Homo sapiens: one gene and its partner. The gene in region 2 interacts genetically with the main gene of each other region. Each region holds a gene or a part of one and is shown on either strand. Other genes may lie near its edges.

Region 1 (3,500 bases), on a different chromosome or scaffold from region 2:
AAAACTTACTAGGTAGTGAACCTTTTGCTATGCAAAATATCGACATGCCTGAACTCTTTCCTTCTAAAACAGCCCATGTTACTGATCAAAAGGAAATTTGTACCTTTAATAGTAAAACTGTTAAAAATACGTCAAGAGCAAATACAAGTCCAGATGCCAGGTTAGGAGATTCAAAAGTATTACAAGATCTTTCTTCAAAGACATATGACAGAGAATTAATAGATGCAGAATATAGATTTTCACCAAATTCAAATAAATCAAACAAATTATCCACTGGAAATAAAATGAAATTTGAGAACTCTTCCAATAAAATTGTTATTCAAGACGAAATTCAAAATTGTATAGTTACATCTAATCTGACAAAAATAAAGGAAGATATTCTTACTAACTCTACTGAAGCTTCTGAAAGGAAGTCAGCTTTGAACACAAGGTATTCTAATGAACAGAAAAATAAGTGCATTTTAAATCAGTCTATTAAAGCCCCTGTTAATACTGATCTTTTTGGCTCTGCAAATCTAGGCAGTAAAACCAGTGTTAGTAACCCAAATCAGACTAGTGCATCAAAAGTAGGTTCTTTCTTTGATGATTGGAATGATCCCTCATTTGCCAATGAAATTATTAAAGCATGTCATCAATTAGATAATACCTGGGAAGCAGATGATGTAGATGATGATTTGTTGTACCAAGCATGTGATGATATTGAAAGACTAACTCAGCAACAAGACATTAGAAAGGACAGTAAGACATCAGAAAGTATATGTGAGATCAATAATAATTCCGAACATGGAGCCAAACTAACTCAGCAACAAGACATTAGAAAGGACAGTAAGACATCAGAAAGTATATGTGAGATCAATAATAATTCCGAACATGGAGCCAAAAACATGTTTGCTATATCTAAACAAGGAAGTAATTTGGTACAATCAAAGCATTTGAATCCAGGCAGCATTTCAGTGCAGACATCTTTGACAAATAGCTCACAAATAGATAAGCCAATGAAGATGGAGAAAGGGGAAATGTATGGAAATTCTCCAAGATTTTTAGGTGCCACAAATTTGACTATGTATTCTAAGATCTCAAACTGTCAGATAAATAATCTGCATGTGTCTTATACTAACACTGATGTTCCAATACAAGTGAATAGTTCCAAATTGGTTCTTCCAGGAAGTTCAAGTTTGAATGTAACTTCAGATCATATGAATACAGAAATTACTACTTATAAGAAGAAATTGAGTACTAATCAGCCATGCCATAAGACTGTAACAGATGAAGCTCAGAGCAACCTTAACACAACAGTTGGATTTTCAAAGTTTACATTTACAAGGATGAAAAATTCTCAGATTCTTTCTCAGTTTAATCAAAATTGTATAACTGGAAGTATGTCTGATACCAAAATTACACAGGGTGTGGAGAAAAAGAAAGGTGTCAACCCATTACTGGAGGAAGCTGTTGGACAGCAATCTTTGGTGAAACTTTCTGAATCTTTGAAACAATCTTCAAAAGGTATGTATGAAATATGAAATAGTTTTCTTTGAAAAGCATCTTAAAAAGTAGTAAAATAATTATTTGTTGTTTTTGAGTGTGAGTAATGTATAAGGTAAAACTATTCTATGACTAGTTAATTTTAAGAATTAACTAGAATTCTTAAAATGATACTTGGAAATAATTATACGGCATTATACAGAGTAGTTGGTTTATTTTTCAAAATATTACATTGAATTCTTTCCCAGCACTTAATACAATGACTGGCATATAGTAGGTACTCAGTAAATATTTTTTGAATAACTTATTCTTTCTTGGAAAATCATACCTTTAGATATATGTATTATAGTGTTCATTAAGATTGTATTTACTAAATTGTTTTAAAACTTGAGTAATCTGGGAAGCAGATGATGAAGCAGTGAGGTAAATAATATTTAGAAATTTAGAGCATTCTAATTAAACGTCTTTACTAGTGTGATATTTGATATAAACGTGCTAGCGGTGATGGTTAAAATTATGATTTACTTATTTGATAACAGCTATCATTTCTGATTCTTCCAATTTCTCTTTTCCCCAAGTCTCCATTCTATCAATAAGTTTCATTCTTTCAAAAACCGTATCCCCAGACTCCATTTTTCTTTCTACAACAAGTTAACATTTCTTGATGAGACTACTGCAGTTCTTTTATCTATCTCCTTTCAATTCTTATCTCCAAACAGTGGAATAGCCTTTTAAAATTGGATGGGCAAAAATGGCGTTTCTATGCTTAAAACAACCTTCAATGGCTGCCCGTCATATTTCAAATAAAATCCAAACTGTATACTGTGACCAACAAAGCTGTGGATTATCTCTCTTTAACCTGCGTCTCCTCTTTTTTCCTTACCTACTAAGCTTCAGCTATACCAGCTATCTTTTAGTTTTTCAAACAGTGTATGTTTTTCTTCCTTGTCCAGGAACTTAGACCGTGCTCTTCCCTTTGACTAAAACTACTTCTTTTCAACATGTGACCCCTTCCCCACTCTTTTGTTGGTGCTTTCTTACATCTCAGTATAAGTACTACTTTCTCACAGAGGCCTTCCTTGAAGAGTCTATAAATAGATCTCCTTGTTTATTTTTTATTTCCTAATTGCTTTCATCACAAGTTGAAATTAAATATTTAGTGACTCTTCTCTGTCTTGTTGGCATTACTGTTCCAACTTTCCTATCTAAGTGACTTTTTTTAAAAATTTACAATAGTAATATGCTAGTTATTTAAAAAGAAAAGTAAAACAGTATAGAATAATTTAAAGGAAAAAGTTAAGTCTTCTGTTTCTCCTTTCTGATAACCATCCCTTACGGAAAACCACTATTAATAGTTGGTATGATGTAGCATTTTCTATGAATATAAAAAGATATGTGTGTGTGTATGTACGTATATATGTGTATGCATATATATATACCTATAGATCTATTTAAATATTAATAAATCTGTATACCCACTATTTGGCAACTTGCTTTTGCCTTAATATATTATAGCTGTCTTTTCCTATTAGTACATATAAATTTATTTTAGTCCTGTTAATGACTATGTGATATATATGGTGGATGTATCATAATTTAACTGTTTCTCTGTGATGGAAGTTTGGGTTGGTTGCAGTCTTTTGCAATTACAAACAATACTCCAGTAAATATCCTTCTGCATAAATTTCCGCATGCTTGTATAATTGTATCTGTTAATTCCTAAAAAATTGCTACAAGAGGAAGTTTTAAAATTTGATGGATACCACCAAATTTCTATCCGAAGCAGTTATACCAATTTATCTTATCAAAACTTACAGTAAATAATTCTCTACACCCAAGGGTGTCCAATCTTTTGGCTTCCCTGGGCCACATTGGAAGAATTATCTTGGATCACACATAAGATACACTGACACTAACAACAGCTGATGAACTAAAAAAAAAAAAAAAAAAAATCACAAAAGAATCTCATAATGTTGTAAAAAAGTTTATGAATTTGTGTTGGGCTGCATTCAAAGCCA
Region 2 (3,500 bases):
TTTCTCCCATTCTGTGGGTTGTCTCTTCACTTTGTTGATTGTTTCCTTTGCTATACAGCAGCTTTTTTACTTGATGTGATCCCATTTGTCCATTTTTGTTTTGGTTGCCTGTACTTTTGAGATCTTTCTTAAGAATTCTTTCCCCAGACCACTGTCCCAGAGAGTTTCCCCAGTGTTTTCTCTTGGTAATTTTATAGTTTCAGGTCTTATATTTAAGTCTTTAATCCACTTTGATTTGTAAAATCAGGCTTTTATCAGCCTTTTATCAGGTTGGGGAAGTTTTTTTAATCATGATTGGATAATGGATTTTGCCAAATGTGTTTTCTGCATCTATCAAGATGATCAGATGGTTTGTGACCACATTCTACTGTATAGTGTATTATATTAATGAGTTCAGATGTTAAACCAACCTTCCATTTCTAGGATAAACTCCCCTTGATCATAATGTATTATCCTTTGTATATGTTGCTAGATTTGGTTTGCCAATATTTTGTTGAGGATTTTTGTGTCCATATTCATGAAGGGTATTCATTTGTTATTTTCTTGTGATGTCTTTGTCTGGCTTTGGTATCAGGGTAATACTGACCTCATAGAACAAGTGAGAGTTTCCTTCTCTATCTTCTGTTAGAGTTTTCAAAATACTCATGTTGTTTCTTCTTTAATGGTTTGGTAGAATACATCACTGATGCCATCTGAGCCTGGGCTTAACCTTGTATAAATATTTTTAATTACTAATTTAATTTTTTTACTTGTTATAGATCTATTCAGATTTTCTATTTTTCTGTTATTTTTTTATCACTATTTTTTTGGTATTTTTTATCTTTTTAGAGTGTTTTTCCAGTGCGTTAGCTTACATATGGGTAAGTTTGCTTCTTAACTAGCGTACACTTTCACTAGTTAAGAAACTAGTCATAATGGCTTCTTTTTTTTAACTTTTTTTTTTTTTTTCTGAGACAGGATCTTGTTCTGTCACCCAGGCTGGAGTGCAGTGGTGTGATCTCAGCTCACTGTAGCCTCCGCCTCCTGGGCTCAAGCAGTCCTCTCCCGTCAGCCTCCCAAGTAGCTGGAGAAGCCGAGCGCCACCACACTCGGCTAATTTTTGCAATTTTAGTGGAGACGGGGTTTTGACATGTTGCCCAGCCTGACCTTGAACTCCTCGGCTCAAGCCATCAACCCATCTCAGCCTCCCACAGTGCTGATATTACAGGCATGAGCCACCGTCCCTGATTGATGAGGTTTTTTATTTCCTAAAAGCCACTGCCCTGAGGGCCCCTGCCCCTTCCTCAGGCTCCCCTACATCTCTCCACAAGTCAGCCTCCAACGGTTCACACCTGGAAAAGCAGGGGACCTTCAGAACTGAGCTCCAGCCTAGTTGGCACCTATATAGATTGGTTGGCCCTCCTGCTATTTCAGTTATTATTTTGAACATCACCACTTGGAAGACTGAGACTCCACTTCAGACCTCTTCTTCCTAACACCCTGATCTGGGGCTGATTATGTGCTTTAACATTCTACTGGGCAGGTCTGGCAGAAGGAACAGTATCAACTGACTGAGTAGGTCTCATTGGCAGTTGTGATTCAGAGACCTAGAAAGCTGAACCCACGGCTGGCAAGAAGAGGATGGTTTGTGGGACCTGGGCTGATGTCTGATGAAATTTTAAGCCCCAGCTATAGCTACTACAAAGAAAAGTGGCTGATGATAAGCATGTAACTCAAAGTAAGTGAACTGAGAAGCATGTTTTTTGTTTGTTTGTTTGTTTGTTTGTTTGAGACAGTTTCGCTCTTGTTGCCCAGGGTGGAGTGCAGTGGCACAATCTCGGCTCACTGCAACCTCTGCCTCCCAGGTTCAAGCGATTCTTGTGCCTCAGCCTCCGAGTCGCTGGGATTACCAGGTGTGTGCCACCACACCTGGCTAATTTTTTGTATTAGTAGAGACAGGGTTTCTCCATGTTGGTCAGGCTGGCCTCGAACTCCCGACCTCAGGTGATCTGCCAGCCTTAGCCTCTCAAAGTGGTGGGATTACAGGCATGAGCCCCCGCGCCCTGCCTGAGAAGTATGTTTTTATGTTGAGGATGTTACTGTGTGATGCCACATACATTGAAACACATACATTTAAAGTAAGGCCACAGACTCAAATGCCTCTAGAAGCCAGACAGGTAGCATACCTCCTCCTTTCATTGATTCAGAGACGTACATTTTTTTTGGCATTTGAACATCTCTGAAATTAGAGTGAACGTTACAATTGCAAGTCAAATGGTGTATAAAAAAGCAGCATCTTTATAGTCAGTGGTGCTTTAGATTAGACGAAATAACAGAAAATGAGTGGTGTTGGCCAGGAAAATTATATCCTTCTCTGTTGGCCTTTCACTTTGAAAGAGAGAAATGGATACAGAGACCTACTTTCCTACAATAAGACACAAGAACAATGACAAATGGGAACGACTTTGCTGCCTTCATGTCCGGTAGCCAATAGGGATTGGTGGCAACAGGCAAACTGGAGAGTACCCTTGCCCCCAGGGCAGCTCCCCCTCTTCCCTAGCTGATTATTGCCTGTGGTGGCATAGATCTAGTGTTGACAAGTGTTCTGAGTTTTCAAAGGAAGTCAGAAACCCCAAAATCTACATCTTCATGTGAAACTCCTAATTTTAAAATGATGGCTCAATTTTTTTTAACTGGCGAAAAAAAATATATATATACAAGTTAGATGAGCCTATGAGTGCTCAGAATAAATATAACCTCTCTTTTAAGGATGCAATATTAAGAGGCAGCATGAGACAAACCAGTTTTTACAATTAAGCCAAAAAAGAAAAGTTAAATCCATTTCGAAGTTTAACACTAGGTTCAGAGGCCCAGAATAACAAATACTGCAGGGCCTCTTACTTATTTCATCTTTAAACTTTCTTTTCTGCCTCCCACTAAATGGAAGATAAGAAAATATAGTTAAATCTATTGAAGATGTTGCATTCCTGTTTATAAAAATGTATGATCACTTTTTAAAATGCAGGCTTAGGTTTCCAAAGCAACAGCATTTGCTTCCCACTGCTGTAGACTGTGGTCAGTGAAAGGCAGGATGATGTCATGGGAAACCCCCAAATTATGAGAAGACCAGGGTGCTAATTCTGGCTGTGTGATGTGCAACTGATTTAGGTTCATTTCATCGTCTTTATTTATAAAATGGGGATGATAATAGCTACCCTCTGTACCTTACATGGTTGTAAGGGCCACATGAGATAAAACATGTGAAAGTATAAAGTGTTATGTATATATTAGTTGGTATTGCCCAAATCACATGGGTAGTTGGGACAGCACAGGTTCTTGAATCTCAGATTCTCCATCTCTGGCTACTGCTCTTTCCCTAGACTGCAGCACCTGTTGAAATGGTCATCTTATCAGCCAGTGGGGTTGAACAGATGAGGAAGCATAAGGCAAGAAGTTATTAGAAAAAAGTTAGCCAACATCTTAGGATCTCAAATAGCACTGTGTCTCTGTACAACAGGGTG

Evidence for each region. Genes that interact genetically often act in the same process or in processes that back each other up.
Region 1: changes in TTC23 (region 2) and ETAA1 are lethal when combined (synthetic lethality), as found in Homo sapiens cells (one large-scale study listed by BioGRID).

What each region holds. Positions count from the first base shown.
Region 1 is NC_000002.12:67,403,833-67,407,332, forward strand, and holds part of ETAA1 (ewing's tumor-associated antigen 1), read left to right. Parts: coding exon 1-1,503; intron 1,504-3,500. UniProt on the Homo sapiens protein: Replication stress response protein that accumulates at DNA damage sites and promotes replication fork progression and integrity.
Region 2 is NC_000015.10:99,239,582-99,243,081, reverse strand, and holds part of TTC23 (tetratricopeptide repeat protein 23), read left to right. Parts: intron 1-1,522; 5' UTR 1,523-1,717; intron 1,718-3,500. UniProt on the Homo sapiens protein: Participates positively in the ciliary Hedgehog (Hh) signaling.